2 separate regions of the Homo sapiens genome follow, and region 1 is linked to region 2. The links come from fine-mapping of genetic effects on gene expression. Tissue or cell type: whole blood. Region 2 holds a variant in brackets; the other region holds the start of a gene. All regions are shown on one strand. Distances are from middle to middle.

What was found. PIP is the estimated chance that this variant, and not a neighbour inherited with it, causes the effect.
Region 1: it holds the start of NHIP, and the variant in region 2 is fine-mapped to the expression of NHIP in whole blood (INTERVAL, PIP 0.98).

The regions. Positions count from the first base shown.
Region 1 is chr22:49,049,050-49,057,233 of GRCh38, reverse strand. NHIP (neuronal hypoxia inducible, placenta associated) reads left to right here and starts at 4,849. Exons shown (of 4, transcript NR_183584.1): 1 at 4,849-6,878; 2 at 7,031-7,478; 3 at 7,771-7,839. RefSeq lists an enhancer at 4,803-4,882.
Region 2 is chr22:49,123,527-49,131,710 of GRCh38, reverse strand. No RefSeq gene overlaps it. Among named protein-coding and RNA genes, the nearest start is that of NHIP, 75 kb to the right of the region's middle. The variant C/T (reference allele first, on the strand shown) is at 4,492.

The sequences.
Region 1 (8,184 bases), 74 kb after region 2:
CTCTTGGGAAGAGAGGAATACAGGCAGCTTCAGGAACAGCTGGATCCAGACACAAAGCCACCTTCAGCCTTGGCTTCCAGCAGCACCCTGCTTTCTTCACTGCACAGGGCAGCATCATCCTCACACACAGCAGGGTGGGGCTGACTGTTCCTGCATTTGCACCTTCAGTTTTGGCTGCTGGAGCAACAACATTCACCACCAAGGCTAAACCACATTGGAAGAAAAACTCGTTGTCCAAGATTGAGTGAAAGGCTGATCCTAGGGCCATGATGCCATAGTCAGGGGCAGGAGCGCCCTATTCTGGAGCGTTGACGAGGAGCACTCACCCAATCCTAGGGCCATGATGCCATGGTCAGGGCCAGGAGCACCCTGCTCCGGAGTATTTAGGAGGGACACTCACCCGGCTTCTGCAGAGTGTGAGCTGTGGAGGAACTGCCCACAGCAGCCCCCCTGGAGGCTGCCTCCTGGAGCATCAAGCTGACCACCCTGTGTTTCTAACCTGCTGGGTCCTTGGGTTCCCCAGGAAAAAGTATGCAAGAATAGGGAGCTAAGAAAGTGTATTTTATTTTATTAAGGATCAAAAAAGTAAAGCAGTCTAGAGACATTTTCCACGAGAGGATGGCCCTGCAACCTCTGTGAGCCCTGCCCGCAGGGTCCAGGCTCCCAGTGTGACAGCAGACAACACCAAGGGTGCCCCAGCCCAGCACATGCAGCTGGATGACACTTCATGTCTGCAGTGTATGAAGACAACACCAAGGGTGCCCCAGCCCAGCACATGCAGCTGGATGACACTTCATGTCTGCAGTGTATGAAGGCAACACCAAGGGTGCCCCAGTCCAGCACATGCCGCTGGATGACACTTCATGTCTGCAGTGTACGAAGACCAGGAAGTGTCCAGAGTCACATCCAAAATGAAGGAAGTTTTATCCAAAGTGTCGCTATGGTTATGTCAAGGCGAAGGGTGTCTTAGTTTGAGCTGCAATCACTAATTACCATAGACTGGGGGCTGAAACACTAGGCATTTATTTCTCTCAGGTGTGGTGTCTGGGAAGCCCAGGATCATCACGGTGCTGACTCGGTGTCTGCTGAGGGCCCCCTTCCTGGCTTGGAGATGGCGCCTTCTCGTTGTGTCCTCAGTGGCAGAAGGGAATCATTTATCTTGTGTCTCTTATTCCAAGGTCACTAATCCTATTCGTGAGGGTTCATGACCTCATCACCTTCCAAAGGCCCCATCCACAAATAGCGTTACACTGCGATTAGGGCTTCAACAGAGGGATCTGGGGATTCACAATCATTCAGTCCATAATAGATGGAGAGAAAGAAAGGGAGGGAGGGAGGGTAGGGTGGAGGGGGCAGAGGAAGGGAGGAAGGAAGAGGGAGGAAGAGAGAGAGAGAGGGAGGAAGAGAGAGAGAGAGGAAGGAAGAGAGGGAGGGTGGGAAGGAGAGAGAAGGGAGGGATGGAGGGAGTGAGATGAATTTCCCTTTGAGAGTGATGCAGGTGCCGTCCCTGGTCCTCATCACAGAGGCTCCTGTAGAGGGGTCAGCCTGGGTGCTAAGGAGACCAGAACCCCGTGTCCCTATGCTCAGTAGAGGGCAGGGCACCGCTGGCCTGCAGTTGGGAGGTCCCCATCAACCCCAGCTTCCAGGAGACAGGGCCGGGGCACTCTCATTCACCATTGTGTCCTGAGTGCCCAGACATGATGGCACTTACTCAACATGGATGAAACGGAGAAGGACTTTCAGAGAAGCAGGAGACTCCTCTCCTGTCCCTGGCCCTGTCTCACTTTACGTGTCCCACATCTTTTCTGAAAGCCACCAGCCCACCCAGCTCCAGTCCTTCAACCTTTTCCAAACGTGTCACAAGTTCTCCAGGAATTACCTTCAAGCTTTCTTTTAATAAGCATTAATTTTGTCTTATTTTTAAATTGGCTCAGCTTGAGCACGGGTCAGAATGGAGTTTTTCATTGGCCCTCTATGAAACCTCAACAGAGAAACCTTGTAAAATGGGAAGGAGATTGTTGGAGTTAACATGTTGTGTAGGTTTTGTATAGTTGTAGAGGGAGTTAAAGTTACTAGGTACATTTAGATGTTGATAGGTTTAGTGTAGATATTATGAAATTTAGGTGTAATTGCTTAAAGAATAGAAATGATGTATACTACCTAAACCAGTAAAAAGCTCAAGAGAGCGACGTCTTAGAAGTACGGGTAGTACAAAGCCCTAAGTAAGGTTGCATAACTGAATTTAATACATTGTTAACTAAAAGAAATGCAAGTAAAGAAATTTATTAGAGAAAATATAGGAAATCTACCTCCCCAGGTGTCTACACATATGTAAAACATGCATTGTTGACAAGAGACATATCAAAAAGAACATAACATGGAAAGAATGAAAGCAAGATACAGAAAGTATGAGAAAAACACTAACCCAAGCAAGGCTGGAATCGCCCGATTATACCAGACAAATAGATATTAAATCAAACCACATTATCAAGAATAAAGAGAGCCACTGCATCACGAGAAACGAAATTATTTATCAGGGTCATAGCATAATTGTGAAACTTAGTATATTAACATAATTTCAAATGGATGCAATGGATAAAAACTCAAGGAGAAAAACACGAATACAAAATCATGATGAGAGTGTTCGACACAACTATCAATCCTAAAGTGGCTACACAGACCCAAAATTAGTAGCGAAGGATTCTTGTCAAGATAATTAATAAGTTTTCTATAATAGCTGCTTCAAATCTGTGAACCTAAGAATCAAGCATTCATGAGACATTTAGAAAAATTCCAACAATTACTAAAAAAATAAGTATTTATGGACTACATTCTCTGAACTCCACATATCGAAATTAGAAATAATGAGAAAAACAGCCCCATAAATATGGAACCATAAAAACCTATTTCTGAAGGAATCGTAAATCAAGGAAGATTACAATCAAAATTTGAAAATATTTGAAACACAATGACCACATAAATGCTGCATATTGAGACTTCTGGAGTGAATGCAGAGAATGCTTCACCTAGGAAGGGTCAGCAAACTGTCTCTGTGGAGGGGCAGGTAGTAGTGTGCTTGAGGCCTATTGCAAAGCAGGTGACTAGCAAAACTGTCTTGTGGAGGGGCAGGTAGTAGCATGCTTGAGACCTACTGCAAAGCAGGTGACTCTGGTTAACAATAATGTGTTGTATATTTCAAAATAACTAAGAGAATCAATGGATATATTAATTGGCTTTAATTAATCACTCCATGTTTTGCACATACATCCAAATACCACATGGCATTTCACAAGTGCAGATGATGATCATTTCCCATTTAAAAATATTATTACTAATATTTTTTACAAACAAAAATAAAAATATATTTGGCTTTGTGGGATAGTCTCTGTTGCATCTCCTCTTCTCTGCTGGATTGGTCAGAAAGCGAACACAGGCAGTATGAAAATGAAGAGGTGTGGCTCTGTTCCCGTAAGCTACGGTTAGCAGAAATCCCTCATTTACATGAAAATGTGTCACCTTTAACATATGTAGGAAGTAAGAAAAACTTTAAAATAAAGCTTGACTTAAAACATCAGAGAATAACAGAATAAACCTAAAGAAGCTAATGAATAGAAAATCTATAATTATGTCCTTAAATTCATAAAAACAGACACCAAGAAATAACAGAGAGGACCACTGTCTTATTCTGTTTTCTGCTGCTGTAATGAAATGCCACCGGCTGGGTAATTTATAAAGAAATGAGATTTATTTCATTCGCAGTTCTGGAGACTACAAAGTCCAGGACAATGGTGCTGGCATCTGGCAAAGGTCATCCCATGGGAGAAGGATGGAGGGCAGGAGCCAGGGCCTGAGTCCGAGCAGGAGAGGCCAGGCTCACTTTAGAAACCCCACTCTTGAGGTAACAAACCCACTCTCTCGATAATGACATTAATCTGTTTATGAGGGTGGAAGCCTGATATGGTTTGGCCGTGTCCTCACCCAAATCTCATCTTGAATTGTAGCTCCCATAATCCCCATGTGTCATGGGAGGGAGCCAGTGGGAGGTAACTAAATCATGGGGGTGGTTTTCCCCCAGGCTATTCTGACAGTACTTTCTCACGAGATCTGATGGTGGTTTTTTTTTTTTTTTTTTTTTTTTTGAGATGGAGTCTCGCTCTGTTGCCCAGGCTGGAGTGCAGTGGCACGATCTCGGCTCACTGCAACCTCTGCCTTCTGGGTTCAAGCGATTCTTCTGCCTCAGCCTCCTGCCTGGACTGGTATAGACACAAATGTGCTAACACTGAGTCTGAAAACACTTCCTTGGATCTTGGATCTAAACTCTCACTGCTTCTCTTCTGATTATAAACCATTTCACAGCCCCCGGCAGTTCAGAAGGCCCTGAGCCCAGGCGGGAACTCAGACTGAATTGCGATGTCATTCAGGCATTAAAAGCACGCATGGGCTCAGAGTGCTGCTTGCTTGACGTTTCCCGTCTGTGAAGCAATTTTATTTAAATTCTACGCAAAATAGAACCCTTTGCTCTTCTTCCCAGAGTCCTGCCCGGTGGGAAGTTCGCTGGAGGCGCAGCAGGGAGCAGCCTGGCTTTTCCTACGGGGTCATTAGAAGCCTCGCTGGGAGAATTTCCCAAATATTTTGCTGTTTGCTCAAACACACTTTTATATTTTGAATCCAGGCATTTGAGAGAGAAATCTGTAGCGTCTGAAGCATGGGTCTGTGGTTCTCAGCGGAACACACGGTCCCAAAAGGCCCTTCCCAAGATGGCCGGGGCTTCCGCCTGCCGCCCTCCCTCCCGTGGTGCTGAGCGCAGGCTGGGCGCGGCCACATCACCCTAAGGGCGTGGGTGTCGGAGTCTTGCAGGCTGGGGTCCCAGGTGAGAGATGCCAGCAGGGAGCTCTAGATGGGGAACTGGGTGAGCCTGGCTCGGTAAGGGCGTGCTCAGAACACCCCATCCCCGAACACGGTCTTGTGTGATAAAATGTCACGCAAGAAGAATCTGAAACCGCGAGAAGAGGAGGACACGGCCAGACTGCACCGAACCCCGGCACCTCTGTGGGGAAAAGCAGGTCAGGCTGAGCGGGGCCGGCGGGGACACGCGCTCCTGGGCTTCTCCAGAGTCTGCCGGGGCCGGGCCCGGGACCGAGGCTGGGACGCGCTGTGCAGTCCCACCCCTCACACCCCTCGCACGCCTGGAAACACCCTCGGGGTAACACAAGCCGGGGTTGAGTTTCTTGAAGAGAAGCTGGCTGCATCCTGGAGCCAGGGAAAGAGGAGCACAGGGGCCAAGCGGTCCAGGGCCACGGAGGAGCAGGACCCCTGGGGAAAGGCCCGGGTCTAGGCCGGGGCCAGGGGACCGTGGTGGAGACCTCAAAAATGGCAGAACACGGAAGCAGGGCGAGAAAAGTAAACGTAGTCCTTGCGGCAGTTTGAAATACACGCGGGTAAACGCTGGGTGACTCCGCCCGGATGCAGAGTGGGGGTCTGTGTCTCTCCCCACAGGCTGCAGGGACCGGGCTCTGGGTAACCAGCAGAAGGTAACAGAACGAGGCTGCTTTTCCTCCAGGCTGTTCTGGTGTCCGCGCGTGGCTTGTGCGCTGACTCCTGACTTGGAGCGCCGCGTGGCCAGAGAAATCTGGGTGCCTCCAGGCCACCATGGTGAGAGGAGAGGCCACCGCACGAACGGAAGAAGCGATGGAGACGGTCTTTACGACCTAAGAACAGAAAGAGTTTCTTATACACAATCCGAAAAGTAAAAATTGATTGATTGATTGATTGAGATGGAATCCCACTCTGTCGTCCAGGTTAGAGTGCAATGGCTTGATCTCGGCTCATTGCAACCTCCGCCTCCCGGGTTCAAGCGATTCTCCTGCCTCAGTCTCCCGAGTAGCTGGGATTATAGGCGCCCGCCACCACGACTGGCTAATTTTTATATTTTTAGTAGAGACGCAGTTTCACCGTGTTGACCAGGCTGGTCTTGAACCCCTGACCTCAGGTGATCCGCCTGCCTCGGTCTCCCAAAGTGCTGGGATTACAGGCGTGAGCCACCGTGCTGGGCCAAAAATCAATTTTAAAACGACCACATGAAAAATAAATCTCCTGTATCACAGAGCATGTTCTGAGGAAAATGAAAGCCACAGATCCAGAAGATATTTGTGACACATATGAAAAACAAAAACTCATATTCAAAACATACACAGCATTGCTATGAATCATTAAGAAAAATGATTTCGTCTCCTCTACAGGAGCCTGAGTGAAGGACAAGGACAGATCATTATAAACCAGGGAGCTTGAAGAGCTAGTTAACAAGCACAGAAAATATGTTCCCCCACACTGTTAATCAAGAAAATTAAAACTGTAATGAGATGCCGCATTGTATCCATGGGATTTCTAAAAGTACAAAGTTCCACAATACCCGTTGTTGACGGAGCAGGGAAACCGCAGGAGCCTGCAGGAGATGAGATTGTAAATGTGCAAGGACATTTTGGAGAAGAGTTGACAACATCTCACTCACGTGTATCAAGCCAAGTGCCGAAAGAAGAATTGGTTGTCATAAAGAAAACAGAAACCCAGAATGGATGTAGCTTATCCCTCCGATGGAAAGTTACAAAGAAGTTAAAATGAATGGGCTGCATCTCTGTGTAACAATTTGGATCAATATCAAAGACACATTTGTTAAAGCAAGGTGTACAATGAAACCTGCAACATGATTTGTCTGTTTAGTAAAACACAGAAAATCTAACTCCGCCTGGCTTACGAACACACACATGTGTTAGAATTTGGGAAAAGGAAAGGGAGGGAGGCCGGCTACACGTGAACTTTTGGAAAATCTCAGAGGGTCTGGGGCACCAGGTGGAGACCATGGCAGCCTTCAGGGATATGAGGTGAGTCCTTCAACTACATTTGCAAGGTTTTATTTCTTAGGAAAATATTTAAAGCAAATATTTCAAAAATGACTAAATCTGAGTGGTAGGGAGTCACTGTTTTATAGATTATTCACTTTTCCCTGGGCTTGGAATGTTTCGTTTTTTCAAAGGTCAAATGAGATGCTGCCTTTCCACCAGATAAAGATTTACCTGGTGCCTCTGTTACTGCCCAGCAGCGCCTGAGGACGTGGGGGCTGCTGCCCAACACGGAGGCTGGGCTGGCCTGGTCCGTGGGCTCAGGTTCTCATCCTCTGCACGTGCATCTGCCTCCTGTGCGTCTCTGTGCACACGCTTGTATCTGGATGCAGAGTCCTGTGCCCAGTGTACATGCACAGATGTGCGCATCTGGGTAGATGTGCTGGTTCGCTGTGTGAGCATGCACAGACCCTTGTTCACCGTGTGTGCGCATCCGTGCAGTGTGGACATCTGGACAGGACCCCGTGCTCCCTGTCTCTGCCGCTGAGATGTTTCCTAGCTGTGCACAGAATTCACTCTCCTACTGGAGGGCTCTGACTGAAAGCTCTGATGCGGCAGGCCTTCTCTTGACACTTGGTTAAGGTATGCCTCTCACATCTGTATGCCCACATCTGCTCTCCTCCCTCCCTCCTTCTCAGCACTTAGCCCTCTGATATGGTTTGCTGGCGTCCCCACCCAAATCTCATCTTGAATTGTAGTTCCCATAAATCCCCACGTATTGTTCGAGGTACCCCGTGGGAGATAATTGAATCATGGGGGTGGTTACCCAGATGCTGCGGTTCTCGTGTTAGTGAGTTCTCGTGAGATCTGATGGTTTTATAAGGGGCTTTTCCCCCTTTTTCTCGGCACTTCTCCTCGCTGCCGCCACATGAAGAAGGATGTGTTTGCTTCCCCTTCTGCCATGATTGGAAGTTTCCTGAGACCCCTCCAGCCATGCTGAACTGTGAGTCAATCAAACGTCTTTCCTCCATAAATTACCCAGTCTCGGGTATGTCTTTATTAGCAGTGTGAGAATGGACTCACACATTCTCCTAATGTAGTATACATGTGTTTGCTCATTTGTCACCATCTCTCCATCTCTAGTCTCTAGAATATGAGATCTGTAAGAACAGGGACACCTAGAATACGAGATCTGTAAGAATAGGGACATTGTCTGTATCAGGTGTTCATGGCTCAATCCCAGCACCTGGAACAGCATGAGGCACCTGGCAGGTGCCTGACAAACATTTGCAGGGAATATGTGTGCATGAACCTGCATGGGCAGGAACAGGTGCATAGGAACATGGAT
Region 2 (8,184 bases):
GGAGGTGGAGGTTGCAGAGAGCTGAGATTGCACCACTGCACTCCAGCCTGGGTGACAGAGCGAGACTCCATCTCAAAAAAACAAAACAAAACAAAATCCTGACCTAAAAAAAAATGAAAATTTGTGATATCCAAATGTATAGAACATAGCTAAAGTGGTGCCAGGAAGGAACATAGAGTATGTTTTCTCTATGTAAAGTGTTCTTCACTCACGGTAGGAAGGAAAAGGGTCTAAAATCAATGACACAAGCTTTAACTTTAAGAAATGAGAAACAGATGAGAGAAAACAAACCAAAATCAAGTGGAAGGAAAATAACAAGAATAAGAGTAAGTTATGTTTCTATATACCAGCAATGAACAACTGAAGTCTGAAATTAATGAAACAATGCCATTTACAATAGCTCAAAAGGAGATTCTTAGGAATCAATCTAATGAAACATACAGAATCTTTGTGGTAAGAATTAGAAAATACAGATAAAAATAATCAAAGAAGACCTCATAAATGAAGAGATATACTGTGTTAATAAGTTGAAAAATTCAGTATAAGAAAATGTCAGTTTCCCCTTAACTTATCCACAGATATAAATTAAGTCATTAAAATTCCAGCAAAAATTTTTTTTGTAGACATAGGGAAGCTGGTTCTAAAATTTACATAGGAAAAAAAAAACCCAAGTAGAATAGGCTAAACAATTTTGAACAAAAAAATGAATTAGGAGGAATGGTACGACCTTATTATTAAGACTTGCTTTGGGCTTCAGTCATGAAGATTGTGTCATATTGGTGAAGAGATAAACATGTAGATCAATGGAACAGAATAGAGAGCCCAGAAATAGATCGACAGAGATGTGACCAATCGATAACAATGGCACAAAGGCATTCGATGGAAAATAATAGTCTTTCAACAAAAGATGTTGGGACAATTGGATGTTCATTTACCAAAAAGTAAACTCTGATCTAAGCTTCACACCTTCTGCCTAAGTTAACCCCAAATACACCGTAGACCTAAATGTGAAAAGTAAAACTAACATTTTTAAAATAAAATATGGGAGAAAAGTTTTGTGACCAGGTTAAACAAAAAGTACTTAGACTCGGCACCAAAAGCGTGATTCCTAAAAGTCAATAAATGAACAATGGAGGCCAGGTGTTGTGGCTCACGCCTGTAATCCCAGGACTTTGGGAGGCTGAGACGGGCAGATCCCAAGGTCAAGAGATTGAGACCATCCTGGACAACATGGTGAAACCCCGTCTCTACTAAAAATACAAGAATTAGCCGGGCGTGGTGGCACTCAACTGTAATCCCAGCTACTCGTAAGGCTGAGGCAGGAGAATCACTTGAACCCGGGATGCAGAAGTTACAGTGAGCCAAGATCATGCCACTGCACTCCAACATGGTGACAGAGCGAGACTCTGTCTCAAATATATATGTATAATAAATACAAATAAAAATAAGAAAAAATGGAAAATTATCAATATTAATAGCTATTGCTTTTTCAAAGATGCAGTTAAGTGGGTGAAAAGACAAGTTACAGACCGGGAGAAGATATTTGCAAACCACATATCTGACAAATACTTGTGTCCAGAATACATAAAAAAAGCTGGAAGCTCAACAGTAAGAAAACAAACAACACAATTTAAAAATGGGCAAAACACTTGACCAGAAACTTCAGCAAAGCAGGTATGCAGGTGGCACAAAAGCACCTGACAAGACGTTCGACATAATTGGGCATTAGGTAAGTGCTAGTTAAGCCAGGTTGAGGTACCACAGCGCGTGGTGCGCACGGCTAACATGGAAACCACTGGTTCTCAGTGCTCAAGGATATGCCTAGAATCACCATGTGGGGCTGCTGAGAGGGCGACATGGGATAGCCATGTGGTTAGGCTGTGCAAAAGTAATTGCGGTTTTTGCCATTAAAGGTCCTTCCTTCCACAGGGTGCGGTGGCTCACACCTGTAATCTAGCACTTTGGGAGGCTGAGGTGGGCAGATCACAAGGTCAGGAGTTCAAGACCAGCCTGGCCAAGTTGGTGAAACCCCATCTCTACTAAAAATACAAAAACTAGCTAGGCATGGTGGTGGGCACCTGTAATCCCAGCTACTTGGGAGGCTGAGGCAGAGAATTGCTTGAACCCGGGAAGCGGAGGTTGCAGTGAGCCAAGATTGCGCCGTAGCACTCCAGCCTGGGCGACAGGGCGAGTCTCTGTCTCAAAAAAAAAAAAAAAAAAAAAAAAAAAAAAAAAAAAAAAAGCCTTCTTTCCTTCCTTCCTTCCTTCCTCCCTCCCTCTTTCTTTCTTTCTTTCTTTCTTTCTTTCTTTCTTTCTTTCTTTCTTTCTTTCTTTCTTTCTTTCTTTCTTTTTCTTCTTTCTTTCTTTCTTTCTTTCTTCCTTTCTTTTTGTTCAGATTATTTTTATTTTATAAAATGAAATGTTGCCATTAAAAGTACTTTTAATGCAAAAACCACAATTACTTTTTCACCAACCTAGTAAAAATCAGTTTGCAGTTTCTTAGAAAGTTAAACAGACATGTGCCCCTCGATACCTCTTTCGAGTGTTTATCCAAAAGAGATGAAATGCATATTCATATAAAAATGTGCATAATGCTTATGGAAGCTCTATCCATAGCCCGATACCGGCAACAATCCAAATGCCTGTCACCAAGGGAATTGATGAACTGTAATCCATACTCAGGGATACCCTGATGGAACGCGGTGGAACCCACACACTGGCATCATGCAATGCATGCCACTCAGCTGGAATGACAGGTGCGATATCGATACAGACAACGACTTGGAATAATTCAAAAGAATTATGCTGAGTGAAAGAAACCAGCCTTGAAAGCTTACATATCCTAAACTTCTCTTTGTATGACACTCTTGAGAAGGATGATGATGGTGGCGAGAATGGATTAGGGAGCGAGGAGGGCGTAACTATGAAGGGTGATGTCAGGGAGACGTTCGTGGCGACGGAAGGGCTTCCCTGCATCCTGATGGTCTGGTTGCTTAAGACTCATAACCGTACATACATGTTCTAAAATCCATTCTACTGCATTTTAATTCAAAAATACATAAAAGTACCAGCCAACAAACTTTATAAAATAACAATGGTCGGAATAAATGGAAAGAAAGAGCATGTTTTTCTACAGAATAATTTAATATCATATAATTAAATAAGTTGATATTTACTTAAAATATTAATAACCAAAAAAGTAGTGTATAAATAAAGAAATAGAATTGAATGAAAATCAAAGTAATATGAAGAAAATAAGATAGAAATCAATGAACTTGCAAATGAAGACCAACTGAGTTGCGTGGTGGCTCTTTGAGAAGAGCGATGGAATTACAAATTCCCATGAAGACTGGGCAAGGAAACAAGGCTAAACCACAGTACAGACTATTTTTTTTTTTGAGTCTCGCTCTGTTGCCCAGGCTGGTGTGCAGTGGTGCGATCTCAGATCACTGCAACCTCTGCCTCCCAGGTTCAAGCAATTCTGCTGCCTCAGCCTCTGGAGTAGCTGGGATTATTACAGACGCCCACCACCACGCCTGGCTAATTATTTTTTTTTGTATTTTTAATAGAGATGGGGTTTTGCCATGTTGGCAAGGCTGGTCTCGAACTCCTGTCCTCAGGTGATCCACCCGCTTCAGCCTCCCAAAGTGCTGGGATTATAGGTGTGAGCCACCACGCCCAGCCCACAGTACACATTTTTAGGAATGAAAAGGGTCATAGCTTTAGAAGCAGCCAAAATTAAAAAGATAACACAATAATGTGAATCATTTCACATGAATAACATTTAAAATTAGGTTGAATAGATAAATCACAGGAAAGACAACAGATCTGACTGAAGCAGAGGTGAAAAAAATAATAGTAATGGGTCAATTCTCCATTGATGAAATTGAATCAGAGATAAAAATTCTTTTCATAAAGAAAGCACAAGACTCAGCTTTTTAAAAGGCAAGTTTGACCAAACATTTATGGAACAAAAGACACACGTGTCATCCTATGCACAGTGACTGTTCCCAGCTCATTTTAAGGGACTAAGGCACCTAGAGAGTTGATCTGGTTTGGCTGTGTCCTCACCCACATCTCATGTTGAATTGTAGTCCCACAGTTTCCACGTGTTGTGGGAGGGACCTGGTGGGAGATAATTGAATCATAGGGGCCATTTCCCCCATGCTGTTCTCATTGAGTAAGTTTCATGAGGTCTGATGGTTTTATAAGGGGAAAGCCCTTTCACTTGCTTCTCATTCTGTCTTGCCTGCCACCATGTAAGATGTGCCTTTCACCTTCTGCATGATTGTGAGGCCTCCCTAGCCGCATGGAACTGCGAGTCCATTAAATCCCTTTTTCTTTTTGTTTTATTTTATTATTTTTTATGGTACTTTAAGTCCTGGGATACATGTGCAGAATGTGCAGGTTTGTTACATAGGCATACACGTGCCATGGTGGTTTGCTGTACCCATCAGCCCATCATCTAGGTTTTAAGCCCCACATGTATTA[C/T]GTATTTCTCCTAATGCTCTCCCTCCCCTTGTCCCCCAACAGGCCCCAGTGTGTGATGTTCCCCCCTCCCTGTGTCCCTATGTTCTCACTGTTCAACTCCCACTTATGAGTGAGAACATGTGAAACCTCTTTTTGTTTATAAATTACCCAGTCTCGGGTATGTCTTTTTCAGCAGTGTGAAAACAGACTGATACAATAGTAGAATAGCATTAATGTCAAAGAAGACACTTCCATTATGAAAAAGGTATAAAAGGGACAATCTCATCCATAAATACAGACACACAGATCTCAGTAATAGCAAAAGGATTGCAACAACATGGAGAAAGAAATCTCTCTTGCCACCGAGTTGAGTTTACCCCAGGAATGAGAGGGCGGCTTAACAATAGAAATCAGTTTATGTATTTCTCCATAGTAAGAAATTAAAGGAGCAAAATCATATGATTTCCCGAATGGATTCACTTAAATTACCTGATAACATTCAACATTTGAATAATAAAAGATATAATATTTACAATAAGGTCAAAAAACGTAAAGTGCAAGTAATCAATCAAAGACAAAGTATAGAACACATTTTTGTGGAAAATCACAAAAGTCTCAGACAAAATTAAATAAGGCCTGACATTTTGTAGAGATGTAGTCTATGTGTGAACTGCACATTTATTTTTATTTTATTTTATTTTATTTTGAGACGGAGTCTTGCTCTGTTTCCCAGGCTGGAGTGCAATGGCATGATCTCAGCTCACTGCAACCTCTGCCTCCTGGCTTCAAGCAACTCTCCTGCCTCAGCTTCCCGAGTAGCTGGGATTACAGGTGCCCACCACCACGTCTGCCTGATTGTGTTTTTAGTAGAGATGGGGTTTCACTGTGTTGGCCAGGCTGGTCTCAAACCCCTGACCTCAGGTGATCTGACTGCCTCAGCCTCCCAAAATGCTGGGATTACAGGCGTGAGCCGCTGCGCCTGGCCATATATATATATATATATATATATATATATATATATATATATATAATTTTTTTAAAGACATTGACTCCCTTCAAGATAAATGAGAAAATCAGTAAAATTCTAATAGAGGGAAATTAATTCAATTCTAGTAAAAATCCCATCTTTTCTTTTTCTTTGTTTTTCTCTCCCTCTCTCCTTTCCTCCTTTCCTTTGGTCCTTTTTTTCTTCTTCCTTTATTTTTAATTTTTCTTTTTTGATAAGAAGCATTGAACTAACTACTGCATTTAAAATGGGACAGAAGTCAGGCGTGGTAGCTCACGCCTGTAATCCCAGCACTTTGGGAGGCCAAGGCAGCTGGATCACCTCAGGTCAGGAGTTCGAGACCAGCCTGGCCAACATGGAGAAACCCTGTCTCTACTAAAAATACAAAAATTAGCTGGGAGTGGTGGTGCATGCCTGTAATCCCAGCTACTCAGAAGGCTGAGGCAGGAGAATCGCTTGAACCTGGGAGGCAGAGGCTGCAGTGAGCCAAGATCGCACCACTGCACTCCAGCCTAGGTGACAGAGGGAGACTCTGTCTCAAAAATAAAATATAAAATAAAATAAAATAAAATAAAATAAAATAAAATAAAATAGGACAGATTGAGACTGGAAACAGAATTGTGTACCATAGCTTAATAAAAGAAAGAAGTAGAATTGTCACTTAGATGTTTGAATAAATGGTGCTGGTTATTCTCAGTGTAAAAAATGAAATTTGATCCCAATTTCCACCATATACAAAAATTAATTCAACTTGGATTAAAGGCTAAGATGTGAAAGATAAAGTCACAAGTTTTGTAAGTCAATACAGGAAAATATTTTAATGCCTGTGGGATGGGGAGAGATTTCTTAAACAAGACACAAGAAGTACAAACTAGGACACAATACACTGATGATTTTAACTACATTAAAATTGAGAAACACTGTTCTGCAACCGTGGGGAAACTGAAAAAAGTATGTTGCAAAGGGGGACAGAATAATTGCAAAACACATGATTGACAGTAGATTTGTACCAAGAAAGTGCAAACATTCCACATACCAGAAAGAAAAAGAAAAGAAAGTTCAGTACAAAAATGTCATTCGGGCATTAGCTGGTGCAACTGGACACATTCGTGTCCTATAATCCAGCATTTCCACCTGTTAGTCTATACTCTAGAAGATCTCGTATGTGCAACTAGAGACATGTACAAGAATGTACACAGCAGTGTGTTTCATGGGACCAAAAAAGCTGAAATCAATGTCCACACCCAGCAACAGCAGAAAGAATAAGTTGTTTCCCGGAAACACGGCGCTTGCTCTGACATGAAGCAGCCTCAAGGTCTCTCTGACTTTCCTCCCGACTCCCAGGATCTTCTGTCTCTCCTGAAGCACAGGATGAGGCTGTTGCCTGAAGTTCCCTTATCTACCTACAAACAGGACCTGCCAAAGGGAAACACAACAGCCTGAGTGTTCATGACCTTGACTCATGTTACAGAAAGACTGACTTTTGTCAACACACCTGATCTGGGGCCCAACAGACTTTGTTCAAGACCGGTGTATGCTCTCCAAGCCCATTGAATCTCCCTAAAAATCATCTATCTTCCCTCTCTCTTTCATCTATGGAGGAAGGTGCATCACCTTCTGAGTAATCATTCTCCTGCAATTCCCCTGTGCTATGGACATTACAATAAATTTCGTAGGTGTTTTTTCCTACTACTCTGCATTTTGCCAGTTGATTTTCAGGGTCCTTTCAGAGGACAAAGGATAAGTTTTCCCTTGGTCTCTACAGAGTCATGTATAGCACCTCCATAAAATATAATATTGAAGTAAAATTTAATGTATTTTAGCTACAAATATCAAACATTGATGATTCTCAAAAATGTGTTAGTGTTATTTGGGGGAAAAACAAGTCATAGAAAAATACACTCAGTATGATTTCATTTATATGAAGTTCAAAACAAGCCAAATGTAAATAATATATTATTTAGGGATAGGAGTTACAGGTGTCAAACAATTTTGTGTAAAAAAAAAAAAAGGAGATGATTAACCCAAAATTTAGGATTGTTTTTCTTTCAGGAAAAAAGCAGCAGCTTGTGACCATGGAGGGAAAAAGTGCTGGGAAAAGCCCTCATCTGTGGCCAGGGGAGGCACGGGGATGGAATGGATGGCACTGAAGGGTGGACAGGATGCCTGGTACTGTAGTATGGACGGGATGGATGGCACTGGGGTGTGTATGGGATGGATGGAACTGGGGTGTGGACGGGATGGATTGCACTGGGGTGTGGATGGGATGGATGGAACTGGAGTGTGGACGAGATGGATGGAACTGGAGTGTGGACGAGAAGGATGGAACTGGAATGTGGACGAAGGGATGGAACTGGAGTGTGGGCGGGATGGATTGCACTGGGGTGTGGACGGAATGGACAGAACTGGATTGTGGAAGGGATGGATTGCACTGGAGTGTGGACGGAATGGATGGAACTGGAGTGCAGATGGGATGGATGGAACTGGAATGTGGACGAATGGATGGAACTGGAGTGTGGACAGGATGGATTGCACTGGGGTGTGGATGGGATGGATGGAACTGGGGTGTGGACGGGATGGATGGAACTGGAGTGTGGACAGCATGGATGGCACTGGAGCCTTACCCTGGATGATGAGGAACCTGAGCAGATACAGAGGGTGAACGGATATTGAAGGTGGGGGATACACTCATTGAGCAGGGCTCTTGC